Linked DNA regions of Homo sapiens: regions 2 and 3 are each linked to region 1. The links come from fine-mapping of genetic effects on gene expression. A gene starts in region 1. Each other region holds a variant in brackets. All regions are shown on one strand. Distances are between the middles of the regions.

The links. PIP is the estimated chance that this variant, and not a neighbour inherited with it, causes the effect.
Region 2: its variant is fine-mapped to the expression of PLSCR1 in fibroblasts (GTEx, PIP above 0.99).
Region 3: its variant is fine-mapped to the expression of PLSCR1 in whole blood (TOPMed, PIP above 0.99).

The regions. Positions count from the first base shown.
Region 1 is chr3:146,538,366-146,549,193 of GRCh38, reverse strand. PLSCR1 (phospholipid scramblase 1) reads left to right here and starts at 4,587. Exons shown (of 9, transcript NM_021105.3): 1 at 4,587-4,727. RefSeq lists an enhancer at 4,258-4,737.
Region 2 is chr3:146,469,068-146,479,895 of GRCh38, reverse strand. It overlaps PLSCR2 (phospholipid scramblase 2), which reads left to right and starts at 10,335. Exons shown (of 8, transcript NM_001395437.1): 1 at 10,335-10,401. RefSeq lists an enhancer at 10,277-10,346. The variant C/A (reference allele first, on the strand shown) is at 6,028.
Region 3 is chr3:146,508,695-146,519,522 of GRCh38, reverse strand. It overlaps PLSCR1 (phospholipid scramblase 1), which reads left to right. Exons shown (of 9, transcript NM_021105.3): 8 at 2,356-2,517; 9 at 3,422-4,343. The coding sequence ends at 3,478. Among named protein-coding and RNA genes, the nearest start is that of PLSCR1, 30 kb to the left of the region's middle. RefSeq lists an enhancer at 4,870-5,371. The variant G/C (reference allele first, on the strand shown) is at 6,292.

The DNA.
Region 1 (10,828 bases):
TCATTGTGTTCTCTTGGGGCCCTTGTGAAAAATTAGTTGACCGTGTATGTTTGGATTTATTTCTGAGCTATTTTGTTCCATTGGTCTACATATCTGTTTTTATGTCAGTGCCATTCTGTTTTATATAAATTTGTAATATAATTTTTAATTAGGAAGTGTTATTTCTCCAGCTTCAATTTTTTTCTCAGAATTGCTTTGGCTATTTGAGGTCTTTTGTGGTTTCATACAAATTTGCATTGAATCTATATATTACTTTGGGTAGTATGAACATTTTAACAATATTATTTCTACATCAAACCAAAAACTTCTGCATGGCAAAGGAAACAATCAACGAAATGAAATGGCAACCTATAGATTGGAAAAATATATATCTGCAAATCATGTTCTCAGAAAAGGGTTGAGTTTCCAAGATTTATAAAGAACTTATACAACTCAATAGCAAGAAAACATATAACCCAATTTAAAAATGGGAAATGGACTTGAATAGACACTTCTTCAAAAATGACATAAAAATAGCCAACAGGTATATGAAAATGTGCCCAGCATCACTATTCATCAGAAAAATGCAAATCAAAATCACTATGAGATACTACGTCATACCTGTTAGGATTGGTATTATCAAAAAGACAAGAGATAACAAGTGTCGGCAAGGGTGTAGAGAAAAGAGAATCCTTGTACACTGTAGGTGGGAATGTAGGCTGGTGCAGCCGTTATGGAAAACAGTACGGAGGTTCCTACAGAAATTAAAAGTAGAACTACCATATGACCCAGAAATCCCTCTTCTGGGTATATACCAAAAGCAAATGAAATCACCGTCTCCTGAAGATAGCCGCACTCCCATGTTCATTGCAGCATTATTCAGAATAGCCAAGATAATAGAAATAATCTAGGTGTCCATCAATAGACAACTGTATAAATAAAGATACATATATTCCATGTTGTGTGTATACACACACACAGATACACACAAAATAGAATATTACTCAGCCTTATAAAAGAAGGAAATTCTGCCAGGTGCTATCACATGGATGGACCTGGAAGGCATTATGCTAAATGAAATAAGCCAGACACAGAAAGAAAAATTTTGCACAATCTCACTTATATGAAATTAAGAAAAGGTCAAATATATACAATAGTGGTTTATAGCAGGGGTCCCCAAGCCCCAGGCCACGGACCTGCACATGTGAGGGATCTAGGTGCATATTTCTTAGGAGAATCTAATGCCTGATTATCTGAGGTGGAGCTCAGGCAGTGATGCTAGCATCGGGCAGCAGCGGCAAATACAGATTAACATTAGCAGAGAGTTTTGACTGCACAGAGACCATAATAAATACATTGATTGCAGACTCATATCAAAACCCTATCAGTGAGGGGCAAATGACAAGTGACAATTAAGCTGTGTCTGGAGGCAGGCTTTATAGTGGAAAATTGATGTACTTCAATTGTACAGTTGCATCTGGTGGCAGGCTTTAAGTCAGAATCCAACACTTATTTTAGTCTGTGCATGGCCCACCCATTATTTTACCACTTCCATCTGCACCTCTTTTCCACACTGTGCACTTGTCTTAGTCACAGTTTTGCTAAGCCCACAAGCTAACCCTTGTGAAAAACAAGGGTTTTTGTTAAAAAAAAGTTTTTGTTAAAAACATCAAAGTGAGTGAAAAACAAACATCACTGGACAGCTTCTTTGAAAATGGGGAAAAACCCAAAGGTGAGATAACAGAAGACTCTAAGACTGCTAACAAAAAGAAAGCTGCACTTAAAGGAAAATGCCAAGAGTCCTACTTAAATTACAGGTTCATTGCAACAGGTGGTTCACATTCTCCAATCCTGCTTTGTATAATATGTGGTGACCAACTGCCCAATGAAGCCATGAAACCTGCAAAACTACTTTGCCACATGGAGACCAAGCACTCTGCATTAAAAGACAAGCCTTTGGAGTTTTTTGTTTTGTTTTGTTTAAAAAAAAAACAGAAACCATGAAACCATGAACACAAAGAACACATAGAAGCAATTATTGAAGGCCACCATGTCATCAAATGTGTCTGCACTGAGAGCATCATTCATAGTGGCTAACTGCATTGCTAAAGCTAAGAAGCCCTTTACTATTGGTGAAGAATTGATCCTGCCTGCTGCTAAGGACATTTGTTGGGAACTTTTAGGAGAGGCTGCAGTTCAAAAAATAGCACATATTCCTCTTCTGGCTAGCACCATAACTAGATGAATTGATGAAATAGCAGAGAATATCGAGGTACAATTGTTAGAGAGGATTAATGAGTCACCATTAATCCTCTCTAGCAATTGGTATGCAATCCAGGTTGATGAGTCTACTGATATTGACAACAAAGCAACAATGCTTTTTTGTGTGTGATATATTTTTCAGGAAGATGTGCACAAGGATATATTATGTGAATTTTTGTTGCCAATCAAAACCACAGCTGAAGAACTATTTGTCTTTGAATGATTACATATCAAGAAAACTGAATTGGTTATTTTGTGTAGGTATATGCATGGAAGGAGTGGCTGCCATGACTGGATGGCTTTCTGGTTTCACTACTCTGGTCAAAGAGACCAGAATGTGAGTCTATGCACTGTGTCATCCACAGAAAAATGCTGGCTAGCTGAAAAATGTTACCTGAACTTAACAATGTTTTGCAGGATGTGACAAAAATAATCAACCACATTAAAGTACATTTTCTTAACTCACATCTGTTTGTGCAGCTCTGTGAGGAGATGGACACTGGGCATGCATGTCTTCTCTTATACACAGAAATGAGATGGCTTTCTAAAAGTAGATCACTGGCTGAAATTTTTGAATTATGAGAGCTGCTCCAGAGATTTATTTTAGAAAATCAGTCACCATTGGCGGCACATTTCAGTGACACAGAAAGGGTTGCAAAACTTGCTTACTTGTGTGATGTATTCAACTCGATCTATGAACTCAACTTGTCGCTTCAGGAGAGAAGGACAACTGTGTTCAAGGAAGCAGATAAATTGGTTGCATTGAAAGCCAAACTGGAATTATGGGGGCAACGAATGAACATTGAGATTTTTGACATGTTTCAAACATTAGCAGAGATTTTGAAGAAGACTGAGCCAGCAGCTTCTTTCTCTCAGCTGATGCATGATCACCTATCTTAGCTTTCAAAAGAGTTCGAGCATTACTACCCAACCACAAAAGAACCCTGAACTGGGAATGAATGTATCCATGACCCATTTGTGAGTAAGTCAGGTGAATCGATTTTGTCCGTACTAGAAGAGGATCAATTGCTTGAGATCACAAATGATGGTGGCCTTAAAAGTATGTTTGAGACAGCTTCAAATCCCATGTTCTGGATTAAACTCAAGGTGGGATATCCTGAGATTGCCACAAAAGCACTGAAGAGTCTGCTTCCATTTCCAACATGCTATCTTTGTGAAGCAGGATTTTCTGCAGTGACAGCAACCAAAACAAGATTACGGAGTAGACTGGACATAAGCAACACACTTCTGGTGTCACTGTCTCCCACCGTTCCCAGATGGGACCTTCTAATTGCAGGAAAACAAGGTCAGGGCTCCCACTGATTCCACATTATGGTGAGTTGTATAATTATTTTATTATATATTACAATGTAATAATAATAGAAGTAAAGTGCGCAATACACGTAATGTGCTTGAATCATCCTGAAACCGTCTGCCACCCGGCCCTGGTCCATGGAAAAATCCTCTTCCGTGAAACTGGTCCCTGGTGCCAAAAAGGTTGGGGACCACTGGTTTATCCAGGGTCATCCAGGTTGGAGTGGGGTCAGGAGAAATGGGGAAATTTAGGTAAAAGTATACAAAGTTACAAACACGTAGGATGAACAAATGGGAAGACCTAATGTACAACATGAGGGCTATAGTTAATGATAGTGGTATTCAGGATTTATGCTAAATAAGTAGATTATAGCTGCTCTTGCCCCAAGGGGGGAAATGTGTAATTATAGGAGTTGATGGATATGTCATACAAATAACTTAAATACACAGAATAAAAACTATTTTAGTTTAAAAAGGAACAATATTTATAAAAAAATAAAGTGAGCTCGAAAACATTCAAATAACTGCTTAAAAATTAAAAAGTAATATCACATAATTTAATAGAAGGAAAGAAAGAGCAAGACAGCAAGAAAGAAAAGGCACCATAAAGAAAAACAATTTTGGCCCCTCCTCATTTGTAGTCTTAAGCTGCCTCTACTCCCTCGCCTTGAAAAGCCACGGGCTTCCGAGGGATGGAGGTCAAAGCCAGAGTAAAGAAAGTTCCCGGGGGAGGCCACTCCCCAGCTGATGACTTTCCAGTTCCAGTTAGTGTCGGAGTCCCAGTTCCTCTCCTTAACCACCGGACAAACGTCTCTGGAGTCTCTCCAATGAGCAAGAAAGCAAGTCGGGGGTAGGGGAGGGGCCTCACACCAGGGGGTGGGCGCAGTCCCTCCTCCAGCTCCTTCACCCTCCAGTAGTCTCGTGGGTCCCCGAGCGCCAGCGCGGGAACCGGGAAAAGGAAACCGTGTTGTGTACGTAAGATTCAGGAAACGAAACCAGGAGCCGCGGGTGTTGGCGCAAAGGTTACTCCCAGACCCTTTTCCGGCTGACTTCTGAGAAGGTTGCGCAGCAGCTGTGCCCGGCAGTCTAGAGGCGCAGAAGAGGAAGCCATCGCCTGGCCCCGGCTCTCTGGACCTTGTCTCGCTCGGGAGCGGAAACAGCGGCAGCCAGAGGTGCGCGGGCGGCTTTCTCTGCCGCCTCCTGGGGACTTGGGCGCGGGAACTGCGCGGAGCCTGCGCTGGGGCCAGGGCCGGGGTCAGGTGTGGAGGGCAACTTGTGGGGAACCGGCGCGAGGGCCCGCAGGTTGTGTTTGCTGCTCTGGGGGTGGAGGATGTGGGGTGAAGGTTGGGGCCAGAAATGCAAGAGGCCTCTGAAAGGGACCCTGGAAGTGGAGCAGGTACACGGCAAGGGGCCCCAGGCGGCCCAGCGGCACCCGGGCTCACCCCAGAACCATTCGAATGACAAGGGGTGCCCTGCCTGAAAACGCCTTGCGGGGCTCAGCTTCCCCTTAGCTACACTGCTTTACAGGTAGAGAGCGGCCCTGAATCCTGGGTAGAGTCTGGGCTCAGGAGCATGTGCCAGCGTAGTGGGGCTATTAGAAGGAATGGTTAATACAGCCTGCAAGCTGTCATTTATCAGTAAGTATTCAATGAAGTCCGCCGGAGCCCACATCTATGCTAGGCCCTCTACAATACCAGCTTAGGAAAGATAGTGGCGGTATCTAGCACGGTTCCTAAGACCATTAGCTCCAGTCAGGCTCCCCGACTTTAAATTCGGCCTCTACTGCTTCACGTCTGTGGACTGTCAGCCACTTTCTTCTTATATATGTTCTTTCCATTGCCTCATCTCTGAAATTGTGTAACTATTAAATGAGCTACAGAGTATTAATGTAAAATTCTTAGAGCAGTGCCTGGCGCTACAGAAAGTACTCAGTGAAAGTTAGCTCTTATTATTTTAAATATTTGACAAAGTTCCTGCTTCTCCAAGCTGATTCTCTGGTTCCCAGGTGGTTTCATTCATGCACTGTTATTCCTGGAAGTCTTGGCATGGCCACTTCCCAGTTCCAGGAACAGGCAGTCGTTGTTTTTTCTGGCTTATCACATTGAGATACATGGTTACTACAAGTGACACTTAAACGTGTCAGACAGTTTGGGGGCTCCCTTCTTGAACTTTTTCTAAGAGCAAACCTTTGTCTTAATGCCACCCTGTTTACAACAATAGTAGGGCTTTGAACAATGAGAAAATGCGGGGAAATGAAAAAGACATATAAAGGGAAAGAGTGGATTTATGCAATTGGATAGAAAAGTGGCATGTAAAATAGCTGGTTTATAGATCAAACTGCCTTTAGATCTGTAAAGGAGCTTAGAGTACATACAGGTGGAGAGACATCAGATGTGTGTGAGCAGACCCTTATGTACTTCTCCATCTTCATCTCTAAGAATGTCTCCCTCTTTTGCTCTGTAACCTCACTCGTCTTCCTTTACTTGAATGAGGGACGTTCCTCCAGCTCAGGAATTCTACCTATGGAGTTCCCTCTATCTATGATGCCCTCCAACACCCCACCCACCATACCTCCATAGACTAGTTGATTTGAGACTTCCTTCATCTCCTAGTCTGACTTTTCTTAAACCCCCTACCACCATCTAAGTTAGTGCCCCATAACCCTTTCTTATAGCAACATTAATTTTATTTATAGCACTTAGAGTATTTTTAATAATATATTTAATTCTTAATTGTCTGTCTCCCCTAGTGTCTAGGTATTGTGCTCTAGTGCCTGGTATAGTGCCTTGCATGCTCTATGCCTTCAATTAATTCCTTTAAAACCACACAAGCTTTATATTTAGTGAATATTTATATAGGAAGAATTTCTATGTGTATATATGTGTATCTGTGTATATACACACTGTATTGCACTGCCCTGAATAGTGCTAAATTAAAAAACCAAAACACTTTTTAATCAGAACTTAATAGTTGCACTCTTCAATTTTCCATATGTTCTTTTAAGAAGTGATTAGAAAAAAATGATGTCTCCATATGTTGTCTGCTGCTGTAAAAGAATACCTGAGACTTGGTAATTTATAAAGGACAGAAATTTATTTCTTACAGTTCTGGAGGCTAGGAAGTCCAACATAATCATGTGTTGCTTAAATACAGGAATACATTCTGAGAAATGCATCATGAGGCAATTTTGTGGTTGTGAGAACGTCATAGAATTTACTTACACAATCCTGGATACTATAGCCAGCCTACTATTTAGGCTGGGGTGGTGGGGTTGGGGGTGTTGAGGAGAGTCAGATTGAGAGCTGAGGGAAGTCTCAAATCAACTAGTCTATAGACGTGTGGGTGAGTGGGTTGGTGGAGGGCATTATAGACAGAGGGAACCTCACAGGTAGAAGTCCTGGGCTGGAGGGAACTTGGCTCATTCAAGAAAAGGAATGACCAGTGAGGTGGCAGATAGCCTACTAGACCTAGACTGTGTGGAATAAGGTGTTGCTCCTAGGCTAGAAACCTGTATAGCATGTACTACTGTAATGAATACTGTATGCAAGTATAATACAATGTCAAGTATTTATGTATCTAAACATAGAAAGGGTACAGTAAAAATAATCTTATGGGACCACCATCATATATGTGATCTGTTGTTGTGGTGCATGACTGTATGGAGGCACCAGCATCTTGTGAGGGTCTTCTTACTGCATCATCCCATGGTGGAAAGTGGAAGGGCAAGACAGCAAGAGAGAGTGGAACTTGATTTCCTTACAAGCCTACTCTGGCAATAACAAACCCACTCCCAAGATAACGACATTAATCTATTCATGAAGGTAGAGTGCTTATAAACTAATCATATTTTATTAGGCTCCACCTCCCAACACTGTTGCATTGGAAATTAAGTTTCCAACACATGAACTTAGCTCACACATTCTAACCATAGCACCTGGCCTAGTTAAAGCTAAGTGGCACAAGAGTAAATTGAAATTCAAGCCTTTTCTGTCTTACATAAGAAAGATAACCTTAAAAGAGTCTTTTAACAAATTTCACTGAAGGATGTCAGTCTTCCTTTTTTCAGTGAATTAGAGACATCGGTGCAAAGAATATGAATTATTAATCATCTTAATTCAGCTAGTTAGCAAGCTGTATCACATTTATTAAAATCACTTTTATTTCTATGGGTTTAGTTTCACCATTTATTAGGAGGAAAGGAAGCAAATTTGTGAGGGAGCTCTGGGTTGTCAGGAAAGGCTTTTCAGAGTAGTAAAGCAATCAAATGAGAATAACTGATTCAGTATTTGTTTCCTTTGTCTCTTTGGTTTACTTTTTAGTTTTGTAGAACACTTGATCACTACCATCTCACTTGGTCCTAGTTGATGTATCATCTACATTTTTATTCAAGGTTTAATATAAAATGCTATAAAAGGCTATCCTAAACTGGTTTTAAGCATATTTGTTTTGTTTGTTCAGCATAAAATACACAAGAGGATTTTTATGGAATGGCTCCTTGTTACAAGGTACTTTGCATTTATAATCAGCCACAGTCACCTCAGTTTCATCCCGTATCTTACAAGTATGATGTGCTGTATACTCAAAGCCTCACCACCTGCTTGCCCCACCCATTTGCTTAAATGTATCAATTTTTTCTAAGCTTAACTTTTACCAAAACTGGAGTTCAACAGATGAATATTTTTCCTTCTTAGATGTTAACTAAACATTTTTAAAGGTACAAAATTTATGTACAAACATAACCCAAATGACATGGAAGTTACTTGATTTGTGACTTACCTCTGTAATGTTCCCCTGGCCTACTTGAAATTCCTACCTTTCCTCTAGTCTAGTATCTTATTCTCAGTTATTCGGAGGAAGTTAGGGACCTAGAATTCTTGTTTTCAGAGCAGTAGAATTTTGCTAACATAATTCAAAACATTTATCCCTATCTTGGGGCTTGAAGAGAATGTGAAATGCTTTATCTTCTGTTTTGAGGGAATGAGGGAAGGAGCTTGTTCTTAGGCAATTAACAAGTAAATTTAAATAAATAATCCAAATCTGGTGTGGGTAAACAAATTTTAGTTTTAGGAACTTTCAAAATTAAGTATGCTTCCCCTTTGGGTTCCAGATTTTACAGTAATACTTTTTGAAAGCAGTAAGATAAAAATTTCAGGACCTCAAGAGATGGGTCAAAAGAGTTTCACTGTAATATGAATTTTGAAGCCAGAACTGGAAATCCCCTGTGCTGTGTCTTCCTCTTCGTGGTAGTAGAGGTTACAGTTATCAAATAGTCCAGAGAAGCAATGGGAACTTATGATTTCTGATAGAAAAATTTTAACAGAGATGTACTTGTATGCAAATAATATATGATGCCTCAGTTTCCTCCAAAGTCTTAGTTAACAGAGTTAGAAAAAATCAGATTATATTTGAAGTTCTGTGTTCATACTGGAGTAATTATTATTCCAATGGTACAATATACAACATAACTTTATTACATTTTTTGGTACAGCATAAAGATGATTTTCCCTTTCTCTGAGTATTTCTGAAATTTAAAATGAAATAAGTGTGGTAGAAGCCATTATTTATGAATTATCATGCTAAATTAATTAACTCATTAATTCATTCAGGGCACACCCAGTTATTCCCCAAACTGAGTGATGTATTTCTGGGAATAGACTTATTAAGCTTGAGAAAACCCAAAGGATCATTATAACAGCAAACAGGAATGTAGGCATCCACATAGTGGATGACTTTAGTGACCTGGCACACAGTGCCTTATCTACTTGGCACATGTACAGGTACAAGGAACACTTAACATTTTGCACCAGAGCTTATTACATACCACTTTCAATGCTTGAGATATTATATAAATGCTAAAATTCTAAAACCTATAGTAAAGCAAAGACCCAGATTTTATACTGCAGTAGTTTTGCCAGTAAGTCTCATCCTCACTAACTTATCTTTTAAGATTAAAAATAATGTAACCAAGTGGGAAGAAAAAGAGCAAATATGAACAAATTGTCATTGTTTTAGAATCTGCTTCTTTTCCTTTCCGGTATTTCTGTGCAAGGAGAGAATGATCTCTGACCTTGTGAAAGGCAAATACCATGTGTATTCATGGTTGTTATTCATTTGGCAACGACTTGAAACTCATGACACTCCCTGCTGAAGATCCTCCACCTATTCTTAACAGCTGGGCTCCCCAGCTCCTGGATCACCAACCAGTACCAGTCTGTGGCCTGTTAGGAACTGGGCTTGTACAGCAGGAGCTGAGCAGCTGGAGAGTGAGCAAAGTTTCATCTGTATTGACAGCTGCTCCCCATCGCTCACATACATTACCACCTGAGCTCAACCTCCTGTCAGATCAGCAGTGGCATTAGATTCTCATAGGAGCAAGAACCCTATTGTGAACTGCATGTGTGAGGGATCTAGGTTGCGCACTCCTTATGAGAATCTAATGCCTGATGATCGGTCACTGTCTCCCATCACCCCCACATGGGACTGTCTAGTTGCGGGAAAACAAGCTCAGGGCTCCCACTGATTCTACCTTATAATGAATTGTATAATCCTTTTGTTATATATTACAATGTAATAATAATAGAAATAAAGTGCACAATAAATGTAATGCGCTTGAATCATCCCAAAACCATCCCCTGCTTCACTGGTCCATGTCTTCCACAAAACCGGTCCCTGGTGCCAAAAAGGTTGGGGACCACTGTTTACCAGGATGCATAGCATGGGTTTATGAATTCCCTATCTTTGCAGCACATCCTTTATTTCTGGCTTGCATGGGACTTGAAAGCCTAAAACAACTAAATGCTAAGAAAAATTATTTTTAAAATGATGACAAAAATATTTTCTATTTCAGATGTATAGATCTGCAATCCAGAAACTATGAATTTTTTTCAGTTGAGTAGTCTGTTTGCCAAAAAATAAAAAAAAATAAAAAATAAAAACTTGCCTAAGTTTCTTCTCTTACATTTTATTTAGGATTTGCCCTTAGACATTATTTAGTGCTTTTCTGACCCTGTAGGGACGGTGAGAATAATTGAAACACTAGTTTCTTAAAATTTCTGTTAAAATTGGTTAAAGGCCATAGAATTTTTTTTTTAAGCTAAGCATGTTATAGAGAGGTATCCTATAAGAAGCAAGGGGCAGGTAAAGACTTTAGAGATGTATAGTCCAGTGTGTTAATTAAAGGATACTACCTACTTCTAATTCGGTATGTATTAATCTTTTCTGATATATCTGTTAAAGTACTCTTCGCATATTTTTAAAAAATTGGCATTTTAAA
Region 2 (10,828 bases), 69 kb after region 1:
GGTCTGAGAGACAGTTGGTTGTTATTTCTCTTCTTTTACATTTGCAGAGGAGTGCTTTACTTCCAATTATGTGGTCAATTTTAGAATAAGTGCAATGTGGTGCTGAGAAGAATGTATATTCTACTGATTTGGGGTGGAGAGTTCTGTAGATGTCTATTAGATCTGCTTGGTGCAGAGCTGAGTTCAAGTCCTGGATATCCTTGCTAACATTCTGTCTCATTGATCTGTCTAATATTGATAGTGGAGTGTTGAAGTCTCCCATTATTATTGTGTGGGAGTCTAAGTCTCTTTGTAGGTCTCTAAGGACTTGCTTTATGAATGCTCCTGTACTGGGTGCATATATATTTAGGATAGTTAGCTCTTCTTGTTGAATTGATCCCTTTACCATTATGTAATGGCCTTCTTTGTCTCTTTTGATCTTTGTTGGTTTAAATTCTGTTTTACCAGAGAGTAGGATTCCAACCCCTGCTTTGTTTTGCTTTTCATTTGCTTGGTAGATCTTCCTGCATCCCTTTATTTTGAGCCTATGTGTGTCTCTGCACGTGAGATGGGTCTCCTGACACAGCACACTGATGGGTCTTGACTCTTTATCCAATTTGCCAGTCTGTGTCTTTTAATTGGGGCATTTAGTCCATCTACATTTAAGGTTAATATTGTTATGTGTGAATTTGATCCTGTCGTGATAATGTTAGCTGGTTATTTTGCCCGTTAATTGATGCAGTTTCTTCCTAGCATCAATGGTCTTTATAATTTGGCATGTTTTGCAGTGGCTGGTACCGGTTTTCCTTTCCATGTTTAGTGCTTCCTTCAGGAGCTCTTGTAAGGTAGGCCTGGTGGTGACAAAATCTCTCAAGATTTATTTGTCTGTAAACGATTTTATTTCTCCTTTACTTATGAAGCTTAGTTTGGCTGGATATGAAATTCTGGGTTGAAAATTCTTTACTTTAAGAATGTTGAATATCGGCCCCCACTCTCTTCTGGCTTGTAGAGTTTCTGCCGAGAGATCCGCTGTTAGTCTGATGGGCTTCCCTTTGTGGGTAACCCGACCTTTGTCTCTGGCTGCCCTTAACATTTTTTCCTTCATTTCAACCTTGGTGAATCTGACAATTATGTGTCTTGGGGTTGCTCCTCTCGAGGAGTATCTTTGTGGTGTTCTCTATGTTTCCTGAATTTGAACATTGGCCTGCCTTGCTAGGTTGGGGAAGTTCTCCTGGATAATATCCTGAAGAGTGTTTTCTAACTTGGTTCAATTCTCCTCGTCACTTTCAGGTACACCAATCAGATGTAGATTTAGTCTTTTCACATAGCTCCATATTTCTTGGAGGCTTTTTTTAGTTTCTTTTTACTCTTTTTTCTCTAAAATTGTATTCACATTTTATTTCATTAATTTGATCTTCAATCACCAATACCCTTTCTTCCACTTGATCGAATCAGCTACTGAAGCTTGTGCATGCATCTTGAAGTTCTCATGCCATGGTTTTTACCTCCATCAGTTCATTTAGGGTTTTCTCTACACTGTTTTTTCTAGTTAGCCATTCATCTAACATTTTATCAAGGTTTTTATTAGCTTCCTTGCAATGGGTTAGAACATGCTCCTTTAGCTCAGAGAAGTTTGTTATTACTGACCTTCTGAAGCCTATTTCTGTCATCTCGTCAAAGTAATTCTCCATCCAGCTTTGTTCCATTGCTGGTGAGCAGTTGCGATCCTTTGGAGGAGAAGGGGTGCTCTGGTTTTTAGAATTTTCTGCTTTGGTTTCTCCCTATCTTTGCGTTGGTCTTTGATGTTGGTGACCTACAGATGGGGTTTTGGTGTAGATGTCCTTTTTGTTGATGTTGATGCTATTCCTTTCAGTTTGTTAGTTTTCCTTCTAACAGTCAGGTCCCTCAGCTGCAGGTCTGTTGGAGTTTGCTGGAGGTCCACTCCAGACGCTGTTTGCCTGGGTATTACCAGTGGAGGCTGCAGAACAGTAAATATTGCAGAACAGCAAATATTGCTGCCTGATCCTTCCTCTGGAAGCTTCATCCCAGAGGGGCACCTGCCTGTATCAGGTGTGTGTCAGCCCCTACTGGGAGGTGTCTCCCAGTTAGGCTACACGAGGGTCAGAGACTCACTTGAAGAGGCAGTCTGCTCATTCTCAGAGCTCAAATGCTGTGCTGGGAGAACCACTGCTCTCTTCAGAGCTGTCAGACAGGGTGTTTAAGTCTGCAGAAGTTTCTGCTGTCTTTTGTTCAGCTATGCCCTGCCCACAAAGGTGAAATCTATAGAGGCTGTAGGCCTTGCTGAGCTGTGGTGGGCTCTGTCCAGTTCAAGCTTCCTGGCCACTTTGTTTACCTAGTCAAGCCTCAGCAATGGCTGACACCACTCCCTTAGCCAGGCTGCTGCCTCGCAGGTCAATCTCAGACTGCTGCACTAGCAGTGAGCAAGGCTCCATGGGTGTGGGACGTGCCGAGCCAGGCACGGGAGAGAATTTCCTAGTCTGCTGGTTGCTAAGACCATAGGAAAAGTGCAGTATTTGGGCCACGGTGTCCCTTTTTCCAGGTGCAGTCTCTCACGGCTTCCCTTGGCTAGGAAAGGGAAATCCCCCCACCCTTTGCACTTCCCAGGTGAGGTAACGCTCTGCCCTGCTTTGGGTCACCCTCCGTGGGCTGCACCCATTGTCCAACCAGTCCCAATGAGATGAACCAGGTCCCTCAGTTGAAAATGCAGAAATCCCCCATCTTCTGCATCGATCACGCTGAGAGCTGCAGACCAGAGCTGTTCCTATTTGGCCATCTTGGAACAGAACTCCAGCAACACTCTGGTATAAGGTGTCTGGTGACCTCTGTTTGCGGGGGTTCTCACCCAGCTGGGAGGCATGAGATCCGAGACCCACTTAACAAAGTACCCTGGCTGTCCCTTGGTCCAACAGGTGTGCTGTTCTTAGGGGAATCCCACTCATCTGGGCTGCCTGGATTCCTCAGAGCTACCAGGGGGAAAGACTAAGTCAGCTGGTCCATGGAGACCATGACTATCCTTCCCCCTAGGGGCTCAGGCCCAGGGAGACCAGAATTTTGGCCCTAAGCCCCTTGCTGGAGTGGCTGAAGTTTTTGCAGGGAGGCCCCACCCAGTAAGGAGGGATGCATCAGGGTCTGCCCTAAAGAGGCAGTCTGGTCGTGATCTGCCACAGCTGGTGTGCTGTACTATGGGGAGTGCCTTTTGAGTCTCCCAGGCACCAGCCGGGGAAATACAGTGGGCTGGAGCTGTAGTGATGGCTACTGCCCTTTCCTCCCAGTAGTTCAGCATCTTAGGCAGCTAGCAGCTGCAGTGAGGGCTGCTGTCCTTTTCCTGGGGAGCTCAGTTGTCTTAGGCAGCAGGCAGCTGCAGTGATGAAGGCTTCCCCTCCCCCTGGGAGCTCAGTAGTCCTAGGCAGATGCCAACTGAGTAGCTGTTGAGAATCTATGCAGCTCTGCGGTTGGGACCCAAGGCCCTGGTAGCATGGGCTCACAAGTGGGATCTCATGATCCATGGGTTGCACAGATCCATGGAAAAAGCACAGATCCCCAGGCTGGGTAGCATGAACACTCAGCGCCTCCCTTGGCTGGGGAATGGGAGCTCCCCCTGCCCCATGTGGCTCTCAGGTGAGGCGATGCACCACACTGCATTTCCTTACTCTCTGTGAGTCACACCAACTGCCTAGTCAGTCCTGATAGAACCTGAGGGTACCTCGGTTCCCAGTGCAGGATTCACACACTGTCTTCGTTCTTCTTGGTGGGAGCCTTTGATTGCAGCTGCTTCTTGTCAGCCTTCTTGGCCCAGTGCACCCCCCGGCGCCCCCGCTATATAACAGTTTTGGGAAATAATTAGTGGTAATTGTTTAACATGACAATTGAGTGAGGCCTTAATAATAGTTGGGGCATAGAAGAAGCTGACCAAAATCTCTTAAAAAGAAAATCTGGGGAATGAGATATTAATAGGGGCTTTTAAAAGTTCTGACATACTCCTGAAAATTTAGAAGGAAATGTGCACGTACAGAACTGTGCACATACCCAGAAAAGACCTGAAAAAGAAATAATCTCTCTCGTCTGGCTGACCTTAAGTTTCTGTGCAAGCAGTGAGAGAAAGCTAAGCCAATACCGTAAATCATCTATTGGATCTTTGAAATAGTGTCCCCAAACACAAAAAGGACCTTTTGGAAAAGGCTGGGAGATACACTTATGCAGCATATTTAAGGAAAACTATATCCATTTATTGAATGACTACTATGCTAACTGAATAGATGTCAGTGGTCACACATAATGAAGAAAATAGATTAATATAATTAGTTGAGGAAAGTAACCAAATGCACAATAGGAAAAACACCACCAGCAACAAAGCCTGGGGAGGAGGCATATACAGTTTCCAGAGTTGTCATATTATATTATTCTAAATATATGGTTTTCAACAAGTTATGAAGCATGTAAAGAAGTAGGAATGTAAGATGAATAGGGCCTGAAGTGAACCCCCAGAAAACTGCAGCAGCCCTACAGAAAAGGAACCTGACAACAACAAAAATGACCCCCGCAAAAATGGCCCCCACAAAATGGCCCCTACAAAAACCCCATGCAAGGGTCAGCAGCCTCAAAGACTGAAACTAGGCAAACTCATGAAGATGAGAAAGAATCAGTGAAAAAATGCTGAAAACCCAAAAGGCCAGAGTGCCTCTTCTCCCCCCAAATGATTGCAACATCTCTCCGTCAAGGGCACAGAACTGGACAAAGGATCAGATGGATGAATTGACAGGAGTAGGCTTCAGAAGATGAGTAATAGAAAACTACACTGAGCTAAAGGAGCATGTTCTAACCCAATGCAAAGAAGCTAAGAACCTTGATAAAAGATTAGAGGAATTGCTAACTAGAATAACCAGTTTAGGGAGGAACAAAAACCACCTGATGGAGCTGAAAAACACAGCACAAGAACTTCATGAAGCATACACAAGTATCAATAGTCAAATCTACCAAGCAGAAGAAAGGATATCAGAGTTTGAAATGCACCTTACTGAAATAAGACATGCAGACGAGAATAGAGAAAAAATGAGTGAAAAGGAATGAACAAAGCCTCCAAGAAATATGGGACTTTATAAAAAGACTGAATCTAAGATTGATTGGAGTACGAGGAGGAGACAGGGAGAATGAAAAGAAGTTGGAAAACACACTTCATGATATCATCATCCAGGAGAATTTCCCCAACTTAGCAAAACAAGCCAACATGAAAATTAAGGAAATACAGAGAACACCATTAAGATACTCCACGAGAAGATCAACCCCAAGACATATAATCATCAGATTCTCCCAGGCTGAAACGAAGGAAAAACTACTAAGGGCAACCAGAGAGAACAGCATGGTCTCCTGCAACGGGAAGCCCATCAGATAAAAACAGACCTCTCAGCAGAAACTCTACAAGCCAGAAGAGAGTGGGAGCCAATATTCAACATTCTTAAAAAAAAGAATTTCCAACCCAGAATTTTAACCCACATGTTAGAACCATGATGCAAAGTGAAATCGTCTTCTGCTACTGTTTCCCATAAAGCTGTGTTATACCTTTTCCCCCTTGGTGCCGTGGAAATCTTGGAGCTATTGAAAAGAAATAAAACCCTCCATGCAGAAGAGGACAACAATAAAAAAAGATAGCATGTTTTGAGTAAGAAATTGTGGAAAGAACAAAAATAAATACCCTCATAGATTCTATAACCACAAGTCAGTCTTCACATAAGTGTATATATGGGCTGTGTGTGTACATGTACTTATGCACATCACAGATACATATTAATATACATATACAAAAGTAAGCAGGAAACTCTTTCCTAGAAGTTCTCAATATGACTCTTCTTTAGCCAAATCTAAGTAATATAACCAAATGCATACCAATAACAGAGAAAGGAGGCTGGATTCATTATGACTGACAATTAACCAATATTTGTTCTTTGGGTTAGGACATTCCTTTCAAGAACATATTGTTCTTCAAGAACTGAGCAAAATAGAACACTTAGCAATGGTTCTTAAAGTGAAGTC[C/A]CTGGAAAACCATCATGAGCGTCACATGGGAATTTATTAGAAAAGCAAATTCTCAAGCCCCGTTCCAAATATATTGAATTAGAAACTCTGGATGTGGGAAACACATATTGAGTTTTAACAAGATTTCCAGGTGAATCTGAGGGATACTAAAATTTGAAAACCACTATTTTACCATGTAAGAGCAGATACTGAGTTTTGATTAGTTAACCAACAGTGTGTTTATGTTATACCTAGATGTTTTCTAATTTAAGATAGTACTTTTCAGCCAGGCGCAGTGGCTCATGCCTGTAATCGCAGCATTTTGGGAGGTCGAGGTGGGTGGATCACCTGATGTCAGGGGTTCAAGACCAGCCTGACCAACATGGCGAAACCCCATCTCTACTAAAAATACAAAAATTAGTTAGGCGTGGTAGCAGGTGCCTGTTATCCCAACTATGGGAGGCTGAGGTAGGAGAATTGCTTGATCCTGGGAGGTGGAGGTTGCTGCAGTGAGCTGAGATCGTGCCATTGCACTCCAGCCTGGGCGACAGAGCAAGACTCTGTCTTAAAAAAAAAAAAAAAAAAAGATAGTACTTTTCTTCAGGACTATAATACAATAAAAGTGAAGATAGTCAAAACAAACAAAACCCAAAGCTGTAATAAACCAAGGATGAAAAAAAGATGAGATTATATAGCAGGGCATAAGATTTCAACAAATTTGAGAATATGAAAAAAAGCAGATGTGGCAAATCATTTTGCAAGACACAGGAAGTCACAAAGGGTGTCTAGACAGATATAATAAGGAGATCCAATTTATTTCTACAGTACCCCAGAGAAAAGGAGGGATTGGTGATGCCAAATTAAGGAAAGGTTAAAAATTCTATGATGGGATCAGTGTCCTTATAAGGAGAGGAAGAAGAACCAGAGCTCTTTCTCTCTCTGCCATGTGAGGCCACAGCAAGAAAGGGACTGTCTGCAAGCCAGAGAGGCTTCAACAGATGATGATTTTACTGGTTCCCTGTCCTTGGACTTCTCAAATTCTAGAACTGTGAGAAATAAATGTCTGCTGTTTAAGTCACCCAGACTATGCCATTTTGCTGTTGCAACAGGAGCTAAGACAGATGTTGCTATTGTCTGAATGTTTGTGTCCACTCAAAATTTATATGTTGAAGCCTAATCACCAATGTGACATATTAGGAGGTGGGGCCTTTGTGAGATTAGGTCACGAGAATGGAACTCTCATAAATGGGATTAATACCTTTTAAAAAAAAATGAAAGAAAGAAAAATACAATCTTAGAGAGATCCCTCGTCCCTTCCACTTTGTGAGGACCCGGTGAGAAGATGCCATGTATGTGTTAGAATGTAGGCCCTTCTGCAGACACTGAATCTCCTGGCACCTTGGTGTTGGATTTGTCAGCCTCCAGGACTATGAGAAATAACTTTCTGTTGTTTATAAGCTACCCAGACTATGGTATTTTCTTTTAGTTGCCCTAATGAACTACATGAAAAGAAGTCTAAATGTAAATAGATACTTTCTCAATTTTAATACCTCTTTGAATAATTGATAGATTAATCAAACCAAATATTAGCTAAAGCAACAGCAAAACTAACTGACACAGCCAATTAGAATGAAAATACATGACTTGTACACAACTGCAGAATACACCTATTTCTCGTACAAAATATTTATAAAAATTGGCTGTGAACCAGAAGGTCATAATGTAAGTCTTAAAAATTTCAAATGACTGTAACCATACACAGCATGTGCTTGCACTACAATAAAATTACAAATAATAAAAAGACAACTAGACATTCCCAACTGCTTGGAAATAAGGAATAGACGTAAAGGAAGAAATCATAAAAATGTCCTGGGTACAAGAGGCAGTTTAAAATAAGATTCAAAGACCAGAAGTCAAAATGAAAAAATAAAAGTAAAAATCACTGAAAATAAAAATTTCTGTGTGGTGAAAGCAACCTTAAATAAGTTTCAAGCCAGAGACACAGTAGGCAAAAGAATTGTATCTTGGCCGGGCATGGTGGCTCACGCCTGCAATCCCAGCACTTTGGGAGGCCAAGGTGGGTGGATCTGAGGTGAGGAGTTTGAGACCAGCCTGGCCAACATGGGGAAACCCCATCTCTACTAAAAATACAAAAATTAGCAGGGCATAGTGGCATATGCCTGTAATCCCAGCTACTTGGGAGGCTGAGGCAAGAGAATTTCTTTAACCCGGAGGGTGGAGTGTGCAGTGAGCTGAGATCGTGCCACTGCACTCCAGTCGGGGCAACAGAGTGAAACTCTGTCTCAGAAAAAAAAAAAAAAAAGAATTGTATCTTATTTAACATACCCACAATATATAAAGACCACTAACAAATCAGCAAGAGGGAAAAAAATCCCAATCCAACAACAATAACAAAATGAGCATTATATTTCAGACAAATCACAGAATAAAACTGTAAAATAATTAGTAATCATATGAAAAAGTCCTCAATCTCATTAACAATCAGAATCAACAAACAAAAAATAAGATAATGCTTGCCATTCACAGTAGGAAACATTTAGAATTGGTATTCTAGAATCGAAGAGGTGTGGAAAAATTAGAAATCCCATGACTTATTGGTAAAAGAATAAAATGTTTTTTTTATTGTATACAGAAAGATATGTGCAAAGATGATGACTACAGCACAATTTATAATTGATAAAACTTGGAAACAGTACCTAGATTATTAGATCAATGACACAGTTCTGTATTAGAGGGATAGAGATTTCCAAGATGCACTGTTAGGTGAAAAACACATCAGAGAAGAGCTGTATAAAATAATCCTCTTTATGTAAAAAAAAAACAAAAAAACAAAAACACTGTGTAGCTGTGTATATACTTATTTGTATGTATATAACATTTACTGAGCGCTTACTCTATGGCAAACATCATTCTAAATTCTTTATATATTTTAACTTCCTTAATCATCATAAAAATCCTCTGTGGTAGATACCATTACTACTCTCATTTTACCGATTAGAAAACAGGCAAAGAGATTGTCAAGTAATTTTCACAAGTCACAGGCACAGGAAGTAAAAAAGAAAGAATTCAAACTCAGGTAGCTCGATTTTCCTTCTTCCTTTTTCTATCTTATTTTCTCAATTTCTTTCTCCACCTTCCTCCCTTCCATTCCCTTTTTTCTTCCCTCCCCCCACCTCTCTTAGTGTGTCTTCAAATGTTTGTGTCAACCTTGGTTAGCAGGGTAATCGGGAGAACAGCACCGGGAATGGAGAGGGTGAGGTTTCATTTTTCTCCATATATGGTGTTATTGTTTGGAAGATCATGTGTTTTTGTTTGTTTGTTTGAGACGAGTCTTGCTCTCTCTCCCAGGCTGGAGTGTAGTGGCTGGATCTCGACTCACTGCAACCTCTGCCTTCCGGGTTCAAGCGATTTTTCTCCTGCCTCAGCCTCCCCAGTAGATGGGATTACAGGGGCACACCACCACACCTGGCTCATTTTTGTATTTTTAGTAGAGACGGGGTTTCACCATGTTGTCCAGGCTGGTCTTGAACTCCTGGTCTCAGGTGATCCGCCTGCCTCGGCCTCCCAAAATGCTAGGGTTTCAGGCGTGTAAATAAATTTTTAAAAAATCAGTAGAAACGTCAGTGCAATATGTATTTATTTATTGCATGAGGGTGTGCCAGTTGCAGGCACACCCTGAAAAATCAAAGGCGCGTCCTGAAAAATTAAACATTCTACACGCCTCATCATTTTCACTCTTAACTTAAAAATGCCTTTTGTTGGAAAGAAAAGGGAGAAGGGCAAGGGCTAGAGATAAAATAATCTCGACCGCTCCTCTTTTGTAGTCTAAGCTCCCTCACCTTGAAAAGCTACAGGCTTCTAAGGGATGGAGGTCAAGAGCAGAGTTAAGGAAGTTCCCGGGGTAGGCCACTCCCCGCCTGATGATTTTCCAGTTCCAGCTGGTGTCGACGTCCCAGTTCATCTGTGCCCTTAACCACCGGAGAAACGTTTCCGGAGTCTCTCCAAAGAGCAAAAAAGGGGACGGGGATGGGGAGAGGGAGACGGGACGGGCTGGGCGGCAGCTGCGCGTCGCACACGGCGTGGGGGGGTGGGTGCAGTCGCGCCCCCAGCTCGGCCGCGCTCCAGCAGCAAAGCCGGATCCTCTGAGCCCGCGCAGGGACCAGGGGAGGGAAGCCTTGTTGTACCCTTGGGGTCCAGAAACCTAAACTAGGGGCTGCTGCAGGTGTAGACTCTGAGGCTGGTCCAGGCCCCTTTTCCGCCGACTTCCGGGAGGGCTGTGCAACAGGTGTGCCTGGCAGTCACGGGGCAGACGGGAGGAAGCCACGCTAGGACCTCGGCTCGCTCAGGGCTGTGCGGGAGCAGCTGCAGCCACGGGTAAGGGGGCGGCTTTCTCAGTCGCCTCCCTATGGGACTGGGGTGTGCCTGGCTAGTGGGGACGATGCTCCGCCCCATAATTGTGTTTGCGTCAGAGGGCGGGGCAAGGGCCCAATGGGCCGCGGGAAGCGACACCTGAAGTGGAACGGAAACTCGGCAAGGGGCCCCAGGCGGCCCAGCTGTACCCTGGCTCACACCAGAACCGTTCGAATGACAAGGGGTGTCCTGCCTGAAAACGCCTTGCGGGGCTCAGCTTCCCCTTAGCTACACTGCTTTACAGGTAGAGAGCGGCCCTGAATCCTGGGCAGAGTCTGGGCTCAGGAGCATGTGCCAGCATAGTGGGGCTATTAGAAGGGACGGTTAATACAGCCTGCAAGCTGTCATTTATCAGTAAGTATTCAATGAAGTCCGCCAGGAGCCCACGTCT
Region 3 (10,828 bases), 30 kb after region 1:
TTATCCAATATAGGTGATAAGAGAGTCTGTCTCCTTCAAGGACTCTTGGTAGGGGGAAAAAATATGGCCACATGAAACTGACATACCAAGTCAGCTCTGTCTATGAGCTTGAAATCTGAATTCCTGCCACTGTTGTGTTTCAGGAATCTCAAAATATAGAAACTGATCCTGAGTAGTGATAAATTTTATATGGTCAACTATAGCCCACAGATTTTTTTTCCTGCCCTCTCAACTAGATTTTCATTAGTATTCAATAAATATGTTTTTAAAAAGCAGACAATCCTAATGGTCAAGAGTATAGACACTGGAGCCAGATGCCCAGGTTTGAAACCCATCTTCACAACACTTATCTATGTGACTTTAACAAATTCTTTCACTTCTCTTTGCTTTAGTTTTTTTACATGAAAATTGGGTGTAATAACAGTAAATAAATAAATCATTAGTAAGTAAATAAAATAGCTTACCAGCAACTATTAATATACTCATGATACACTTTTTATATTTCTTTGCTACATACCTAGATCCTATATGCTGTCATTATATTTCAGTATTTTGCATTTATATTTGCATTGTGAGATGAATCTATGGTTTTCTTTTTAGAATGCTTTTACCAATTAGTATTGCACTCATGGATTTGAAAGTTTAACATTATACAATACCAATTTATTATTTCCAAATGTTGACATTTTATTATAGTGATTTTCTATTCCAAAATGTCTACAATTTAGCTAAAAATTATCTAGTCCTGCTAATTTATTGGTTGAAGATCATTATTTGCATTTCTTATCCTTGCCATAAAAAATGTATTCTCTACTTTGTTAAATTTCTTGCTGTAGTAATCAAAAAGGGCAAATGTTAATATCTTTATCTGTATAGTGTTGAGTTTACGGTGGCTAGTAAGTTGTCAGCTGCATTTTTCATTTTTTTAAATTTCAGAATTAAAAAATAAAACATAAGAGTTTTCATTACTAGCTTCAAATGCTTCAATGACAGCTATTAGCAGAAAAATACTAACATGTACAAGAAAGGATTTGTATTAGTTTATTTCACCACAGTAGTATTTCATTACACATAATCCCTAAAACTCAGCAGCTTGCAATAAGTGTTTATACTCATGCTTATGGGTGTGTAGGTCAACTGTGTTTCAGTGGATGTATTTAAGCACTGACTTAGGCGCATGTTAACCTCAATCTGCTCCAGGTAGATTTGTTCTATGGCTGTAGCAGCAGCAGCTACCTGAGTCATGCTTTTCTAGTGGCTTGTCACTGAAGATCATAAGCCAGGCCAAAGCACTTAGCCAAGTTTAAGGACACTACTCATGTCATATCTGCTAACACCCGTTGTTCAAACAAGTAACATGGCCAAGCCTAATTATGAAGGAACAGGAAGTATACTGGCCCTACAGAAGGAGAGGGAATGAAATGAATATTTGATGAACAGTATTATGCTATCAGCTTCATATTAGATGTTTATTTCTAGTATTTTACAAACTATCCACTTGTACTCAAATAAAATGAGTCAAGTATTTTTAGATTCCCCACATTTATTTAGCTGAAAAGGACACTCCTCTGTTAATACAACTATATGTGTACATAGTTTTGTGAATTTCAGCTACATTCAGTCCCCACCTGCCCTCCTAGAGGAGTTGCCTTAGTCTGAGCAAAGTCCATTCAACCCTATATGATGGCCCTGGGCTTTCCTCAGGCAGAATTGTAAAATTAGGAAACTTCTACTTCGGAGCTCATTTGTTCATACACTCTTCATCTTTTATTCACACCCCACTAGTTATCCACTCTCAACCTCAACCCTTGGCGTGGGGCATTTCATCAAGTTACTTATTGGTATTTGCCTTTACTCCAAACTGCTAATCTTTTCTAGGTGCTTAGCATTTCATGTTTGGCAACTCACAGTGGGTAGTAATAAGCCTTTTCATCATATTTAATCTTTCAGTCTGTGTAAACTGTGCTTCTCCTAAAGCAGAAGTCTAATAGGAGTTTTGTTCATTAACTTCCTGATGGCTTCTAGAAATGTCATCAAAGAAACATTTCATATTTATATCCTTTTTTGCTTAAATTTTCTTTTGGGTCAATTCAAATAATTTATTAATGTCTATATTAATATAAAATAGAAATTGTTAAATATTTCAGGAAAACTTTCTGAAATATAATTTCTCCGTACAATGAAACAGTTTTTTTCATATATCTATAAATAGATACAGGAGCCTCCAGTTATCTAATGAGGGTTACATATGGTGCATAATTTTAATACCATATTTGTTTCATCTTACTTCAAATTTGAAAGTACTTTTGCTATAAGTTTCCTAAAAGTATTTAATACTTTTTTTTTTCAATTTAGATTAAATCTCTTGATGAACAGTGTGTGGTTGGCAAAATTTCCAAGCACTGGACTGGAATTTTGAGAGAGGCATTTACAGACGCTGATAACTTTGGAATCCAGTTCCCTTTAGACCTTGATGTTAAAATGAAAGCTGTAATGATTGGTGCCTGTTTCCTCATTGTAAGTCTGTTCTTATTAATCTTGATTATAGATGCTTTCTCTAGGTTCATTCTGAAATGATTCAGTAAAGTGTATATTTCAAAATGACATTTTAAAATTTATAGATTTTAAATCAGGATTCCCATTTAATCCTAGCTCTGAAATTCTATTTGATCCTGACACTCTGGGGTCACAGGTGACTAGTTTCTACCTGAAGAGTCTATGAATATTCACATGGCAAGAGGGGGACTAAGGAGATGTACTAAGGAGAGATTTTAGTCTCCCCTTAAATCAGGCATCTCCTAGATGCTTTGAGGAAGAAGTTGAAAGTAGGCATATGTGGAAAAAATTTAGTGAAACAAGGAAACTTTACCATGACTCATAGTAATTAAATTAAACCATCTAATATAGGAGTATGAAGTACAATAAGAGTGTACATTCACTCAAGTGTGTAGACCTAACTACCAAATTACAGGAAATAATTGGATATACCAGTGATTCTGAAATTGCCTTCACATTAGAACCACCTAGGGACTTTAAAAACTCCAAGGACTAGTCCATACCTCAGTTCAACTAAATCAGAAACTTCGAAGTTCATATAGTGTTCCAGGTGATTCCAGTATGCAGCCAAAGATGAGAATTATGGGGATAGAGAAAAAGTAACATTTAGAGAAAATGACTGGAAGATTAATTAAATTCATACAGGTATCAATAAATGAATAGAATTATAGAATTTATTATTAAAATGGAAAGCCAAAGGCAGAACTTATATAATTATAGAGCTTTTGTATATTTACTTATTACATTTAATTTTTTTAACAGATTTGTTACTGTGTTTCACTAGATCCCTTAGTATTTCTGCATCTGATAATTGATCTCTGTTTTGTTGTTGAAAATTCATTTGTATACTTTTGTTTTTATCTAGGACTTCATGTTTTTTGAAAGCACTGGCAGCCAGGAACAAAAATCAGGAGTGTGGTAGTGGATTAGTGAAAGTCTCCTCAGGAAATCTGAAGTCTGTATATTGATTGAGACTATCTAAACTCATACCTGTATGAATTAAGCTGTAAGGCCTGTAGCTCTGGTTGTATACTTTTGCTTTTCAAATTATAGTTTATCTTCTGTATAACTGATTTATAAAGGTTTTTGTACATTTTTTAATACTCATTGTCAATTTGAGAAAAAGGACATATGAGTTTTTGCATTTATTAATGAAACTTCCTTTGAAAAACTGCTTTGAATTATGATCTCTGATTCATTGTCCATTTTACTACCAAATATTAACTAAGGCCTTATTAATTTTTATATAAATTATATCTTGTCCTATTAAATCTAGTTACAATTTATTTCATGCATAAGAGCTAATGTTATTTTGCAAATGCCATATATTCAAAAAAGCTCAAAGATAATTTTCTTTACTATTATGTTCAAATAATATTCAATATGCATATTATCTTTAAAAAGTTAAATGTTTTTTTAATCTTCAAGAAATCATGCTACACTTAACTTCTCCTAGAAGCTAATCTATACCATAATATTTTCATATTCACAAGATATTAAATTACCAATTTTCAAATTATTGTTAGTAAAGAACAAAATGATTCTCTCCCAAAGAAAGACACATTTTAAATACTCCTTCACTCTAAAACTCTGGTATTATAACTTTTGAAAGTTAATATTTCTACATGAAATGTTTAGCTCTTACACTCTATCCTTCCTAGAAAATGGTAATTGAGATTACTCAGATATTAATTAAATACAATATCATATATATATTCACAGAGTATAAACCTAAATAATGATCTATTAGATTCAAATATTTGAAATAAAAACTTGATTTTTTTGTATATTTGATTTTTGTTTTTAAACGAAATGTGTTCAGATGGTATTTTGAGCACTCATTCAGTTAAATGATGGTACATTTGAAGCAGGATATTTCCCTGACCCCTTCACAGGACTCGAGACAGGGGTGCCTTGTTTACTCAGCCTGCCATTCTCAACTCCTCCTGGGAGGGAGTGCACAGGCAAACAAGGCAGGAACTGGAGTGTACAAGCACTGGAACTGGCTGGCCGCTTTGGCATGGGCAGGAACAAACTGTGCAGGCCCTGTGGTAGCATCCAGGTGGGGTTGCCTGCGATTCCTGAAGCCCCAGAAGATGTGTTAACAGTGCTCTTTTAGCTCTGCTGTCTGTGGACGGCTTAAGTGTTAACAGCTCAGTGGGCCCTTTGCCTTGTCATGTGGGACAGCTGCCCTCCACCAGCAAGGGCAAATGGCGAATGTGAGAGCCTTTTATATCGGCACTCATGGCTCCCAGGCTCTTGTCCGGTGTCCAGGAAAAATGTGGTCACAAAAACAAACTGAAGGATGGTAAATGAGGGGGATTTTATTGCTGATGAAAGTGGCTCTCAGTGAGAAAGGGAGCTGAAAAGGGGACAGTGGGGTAGGTGATCTTCCCCTGAAGTCTGGCCCTGTCCAGCTGGATTCTTCTCTGAAGTTACACTGTCAAGCTGTCCCTCTGAAGTCAAGCTGCTTCTCTCCAATGTCCAGCCATAGTCTCCACTCCTCTCTGACTGAGTCTTGGGTCTTTATAGGCACAGGATTGCAGGCAGGGCGGGCCATGGGCAGTTTAGGAAAAGGCAACATTCAAGTAGGAAAACAGGGATATAAATTCTCACTTTGGGCCGGGGTTTCAGGCATTTCAGCTTGAGGGTAGGGTTTTCACTGGGGACTCACCCTTTTCTACCTAGAATTTCTCTGCCTCCTGTCTCCATCATATTTAACTGACTTTTCCTTTCAAATCTCCTTTAAAAATGAGCAAAGGTACATGACACTTTGTAGTAAAATCTGTACCAGTGTTGGAAACTAGGATTTCCACCTGTCAGAAGCTTATAAGAATTTAGTTAATCTCTTTTGTAATGAAGATTGAGTTGAAAGATGACATGAACAACCCACAATATTCTTCATGCAATGGAAAAGTATGCTTAAGCAATAAGGGCATGTGGAAGAGTCCCTCTTTCATATTCAGCACAATTCTTGTAACAGCAGCTCTCCTCATGGTGTTAGTGCCCTAGACCTCAATAGCTCCAAATGGCAAGCGGTGAGAACATTAGTATGCAGGAGATCTTCAGGAAAAGTCAAGTCTAGATGATCTCCCACAAGTCTAAACAATTCACCAGATGCCAAGTTCCAGTGATGAGGTGTACCCATGGAACTCAGAGCATGTGCTTGGTACAGATGGCATGCCAAGAAAAGTGGAGGTACTTGCATAGCTGAATCCCAATGGCATTGTTATGCCAGTTACAGAAGAGGGTGGGCATAGGATTTCCAAACTGGCCATAATGTGCCAAAACTAACCCAAAATAAGGCTTAGAGTACTGACATTATCTCTGTGACAGCTAAATTTTACTTTCATTATTTCTCTCTCTCTCAACAGGATTCTGGATCTTTGGTTAAGCAAAATGAAACTAAACTGATCTAAACATTTCTTTCTTCAACTCTGCAAAGAAGATCTGAGCAAAACCCCACATATCTTCTGCAGAACCTATTTAAATACTAGACAAATATCTTCTCATTACATAATTACATACAGAAAATAATCACACATGAAAAATTCGATATTTAATTAAGAAAATACCAGGAATTGTTTTTCAAAGTTTAATTTGTAATCTCAATGAGATTTGAGGAAATGTTGCATATTTTTTTATTTCTACCATGTGAGTTATAACAGTGAATGGAAAGTCACTGCGTGTCCCTGACTAGGGAAAATATTCAGGAGGAAAAGCTGCAATGGATGG[G/C]GCATGGAGGTATATTTTTGATCTTGGGAAGGAAGTTCTAGGTAGGTGGTCAGTGAGGAAGGGGGAGAAGGAGGGAGGAAGAAGGAGGGGAGGGAGGGGAGGAAGACAAGATTAAGGGATGTCAGTACCTCTCCTATGTACCTCTTGGGGGAGGGTTGAGGAGTGAGGGGAGTGTAAGTGAAAGTAGAGACAAGGCTGGGAGAGGAAAAAACAAAAAGCACCAGCCACAGGCAATTAAATTGCCAGAAAGTCAGTGTCTGGGCTCCCGGCATCAAGTTAGCTAGCTACTCTATGGATAAGTACTGAAGCTTTAATTGCATTTGGGCTCAAAAACAACAACTGTAACTTTAGGGTAACTAGAAAAGCCTCTGTAGAGAATCGCTGCCATCAGTTAAGAATGGAATGATTTAAAATGTCTCTGGGCACAATGAAGTGCTCCTAGAGCTTAAAGTGCCAGAAAAGTGTACAGGGTTTCCCTCCATGTCCTGCCTCTCTCCTTTACTGTCTCTAGCCCAGCATACACCGCCTGAGTTTCTAGGGCCATGTTCCTGCACCTGGTACTGTCTCCTTCAAGCTGTGTGTTCCTCCTTGTGCCTTAATTTCCCTTAGTTGTCAATAGTATCGTTGTCAATTGATTATGTTATCTACCTCATAAGGTCAGTATGAAGATTCAGTGTTCTAATGCAGGTTCAGAGACCTGAGCAGGTTCCTGCAATAGAACCAGTGTAAAAAATGAAAAGGGCTATGTGTTGGTAAAGATCAATGGTTTTCAGAACACAGAGAAGTGTCTCAAAGCCAGTGAAGAATATTTGGCCTAAAGTAAATTTCTGTATTGTGATTTGAATAGCAAGCAAAATCCATTTAAACCCTAGCAAGAATACTATCTCCTCAAAAAAAAAAAAAAAAAAAGTCCATGCAAGATGCCAAGCTAGGGAATGATGCTCATCTCACAGAAGTGTAGATTAAGGGAAATTAAGGCACAGGGAGGAACAGAGTCTCTGGCTTCTGTGTTAGAGCCTTTTTTAATCTTAGCTTTATAGTGTCAAAATGTGGCAAGCTATTTTAAGAGAGGAACAATAGCTGGGCGCAGTAACTCATGCCTGTAATCCCAGCACTTTGGGAGGCCAAGACAGGTGGATCACCTGAGGTCAGGAGTTCAAGACCAGCCTGGCCAAAATGGTGAAACCCTGTTTCTATTAAAAATACAAAAATTAGCTGGGCATGGTGGCAGGCATCTGTAATCCCAGCTACTGGGAAGGATGAGGCAGGAGAATTGATTGAACCTGGGAGGCGGAGGTTGCAATGAGCCGAGATTGCACCATTGCACTCCAGCCTGGGTGACAAGAGTGAAACTGCTTCTCAAGAAAAAGAAAAGAGAGAGAGAGAGGAACAATAATCTGGGCCCCTGAAACCAGATGAAACAACTGACAATACAGAGTCTGAACTCATGATTTACAAACTGAGAGGGCCATGGAATGATAAGGAACAAGTACAACTGGTCACAGAGCTCTGCACTTAACAACCCTCCACACACATACACACACCAAGCATTCAAGTTAAACGTTAACCTACTGTTAATGTTTATATGGTAGAAAACATCAGATTTATGCCAAAATGCAGATTATAAATCTACCCACATTGAATTCTGAATAGATTTGGAAAATTGATCTGCTTGCCTACTAAGTACAATTTGTTTCTGCCTGTGGATTCTGGGGGTTTTCCATCATTAACACATTGAGGTTATTCTGTCTGGCAGTGATAGGGAACAAACATTGGCCTATTTATTTCAGCAAAGGAGTTAGTTGCTAGGAAACATTTCAACTTTAGTCAGGTATTGCCAATAGACTGCAACCACCTGAAAATATCTTAGAGAAATTCTCGGTTATATTGACTTTACAGAGTTAATTAGATCTTAGTCTACCACCCGGTCCACTCGGGCTTCTATACCAAAACACCTTAGACAGGGACAGTGTAATTATAAAGGACTAAAATTTGTTAATTATAGTTCACGAAGCTGAGAAGTCCAAGATCAAGTCACCAACAGATTCTGGTGTCTAGTGAGGGCTGCTCTCTGTTTCTAAGATGGCACCCTGTTGCTGCATTCTCACATGGCGGAAGGCAGAAGGTCAACAGGGACCCAACCGAGCCCTTTTAAAAGGTCACCAATCCAATTCATGAGAATGGTGCCTTCATGACTTAATCACATCCTAAAGGCCCCATATCTGAATACTGTCAAAATGGGTCTTAGTTTCCAACAAATGAATTTGGGGGCACACATACCTTTAAACCATGGCTCCTACTAAGCACATTTCTGTTAAATCATACTGCCTGAATTCTTTCCCCGTTATTGCAAGTCACAAGCAGAAGATAATTTACTCGCAAAATTATTTTTTTTGCAAATCTATTTCAGTTTTTATGAATAAAGACAGATTCACTCAAATAATTCACATAAATGTATTTGTAAACGTTATACCTGAGGAGGAAATGAATATAAAAAAAAAAAGTTGATTGATTTAAGGGCACTGAAACTGCTCATCAATTATTTAACAAGTACATACGGAGCTTCTACACTGGGCCAGTAGTTACGCTAGGTACGATGGTCTCAATAAGCAACAAAAATTATTTTCTACAAGATGCTTAAGGTCAATTATACATATGGAATGTTTGATTATAGGATCCAGAGTACTATGGAGAGGGGTAGTAGGGACACTGAACTCAGTTTTAATGGTCAGGAAATTAGGGGAAGTAACTTTTAAACTAAGAAAGTTTGCTGGACAAAAGGCAAGTGAGATTATTTCAGGCAAAGGAAAGAACATAAACAGAAGTCACCTCAGGGGTCTGAAATGTGGCTAGGCCACTGGTTTTGTGTTCCTTCGTGAGTGAAAGACATGCAGGGGGTAGGACATCTAAAGAGTGGTTAGATCATACAGTGCCTTAGCCACATTAAGAAGTTCAGGTTGGGGCCAGACATGGTGGTTGACACCAGTAATCCCACCACTTTGAGAGGCTGAGGTGGGAGGAGGTAGGAAAGATCAAGTGTCCTTTCCTACACATAGTTCTCTCTCAGTCTCTAGGAATCAGGTGGTGGACTTCTCTAAAGCTGCACTTTTTTTTTTTTTTTTCCCAAGCAGCATGGCTTGCCTGATTGTTCTCTAGGAACTAGTCTAGCCTTTTCAGATGAGAAAGTTACTTTGTCTACACAGAAGTTTTCTCATGGTGATTTGGTATCTCCCTCATCACCAAAACCTGGATACATGGTAGATGGCCTAAAATTGTTGAATTATCTATCTTTCAAATTTACAGTGTGAATCGATTTACGTTTCAGGTCCTGAAAGCTATCAAAATAACCAAAGTCCATTTATCTGAGGAGATGGTATTAATAATTAGTTGTGTAAGTAAAAAAGTCAATAAAAGATGAAGCATATCTGTAAAAAAGATGAATATATTTAAAATAAATTAAGGGTGAATTTTATTATTTTGTTATTATTATCATATCATTTATTTATTTATCAATCTTTTAAGTAGGGGCAAGGGCCAAGTGTGGGTCTACTATTCTGCACTGTCTTTCTTCTATAAAAATACACAGTTTATTTTTGTTTCAATAGAGCCAGAATTCTAAGACACTTTCAAAGGTATCTTAGTGTAGACCAGTCAATTTTTACCATGATTTTTCAGTCATTCATATTTGGCTCACCCTTTACTAACTCAGTAGCAATCAACTTTACTGAGTAGACTTAATAAGCATTTTAAAGGAATTCAGATTAACTTACATAGAAACAATCTTTTATATTAATATTTAATCAAAGCAAGTAAAAATATTTACTTTCTGTAACTACAATAATCTTTTGTATAAACTGATTTACAAATAAATACAAATCACTTTTAGTTGGTGTAGAACTTTTGAGAGAGTAGACGTACCCTAGAACTAGAGAGTCAATAGGGACCCTCTTAATGTAATAGTCAAGTGTATTCAGCATAATTTGAGCTAATAATTAGGTTTTACAGAGAGAATAGGAAATGTCAACCCAAGGAGTTGGGTAAATTAAGATCAGTTAAGAGAGTATCTATATTGACTTTCTTTAATAATTATTTTCTGACAAGGAAAACAATAGTCACCATCAATCCAGTAGGTAAAATAATATGACACTTTTTTATACGATTCATGGCTCCCTCAAGAACTTATCTGCTGCAAAAAGTAAAGGAGAAAGCAGGAAAGAAGAAAGGAAGGGATTAAATGAAAAGGAAAGAAGAAAGAAAAGGGGTTTTTGTTTGTTTGTTTCATTAGAAGTCAACTAAAAAATATAGAAGAAATGACGAAGGTAGGAAATGACCATTTGACAGTCATCATCACAATAATTTTATTCCAGCAAGGAAACATCGGTGGCTGCTAAAATTACTGATGAACATTTAAGGAAAAGCAATATGCAGTACTTACATTGTCTCAAAGTAGCTTCTTATAAGATACTTATTAATTTCAAAAAATAAAATAGTGAGTAACTTTACATTTACTGCATGATACAATTCAGCTGAGCTGCCT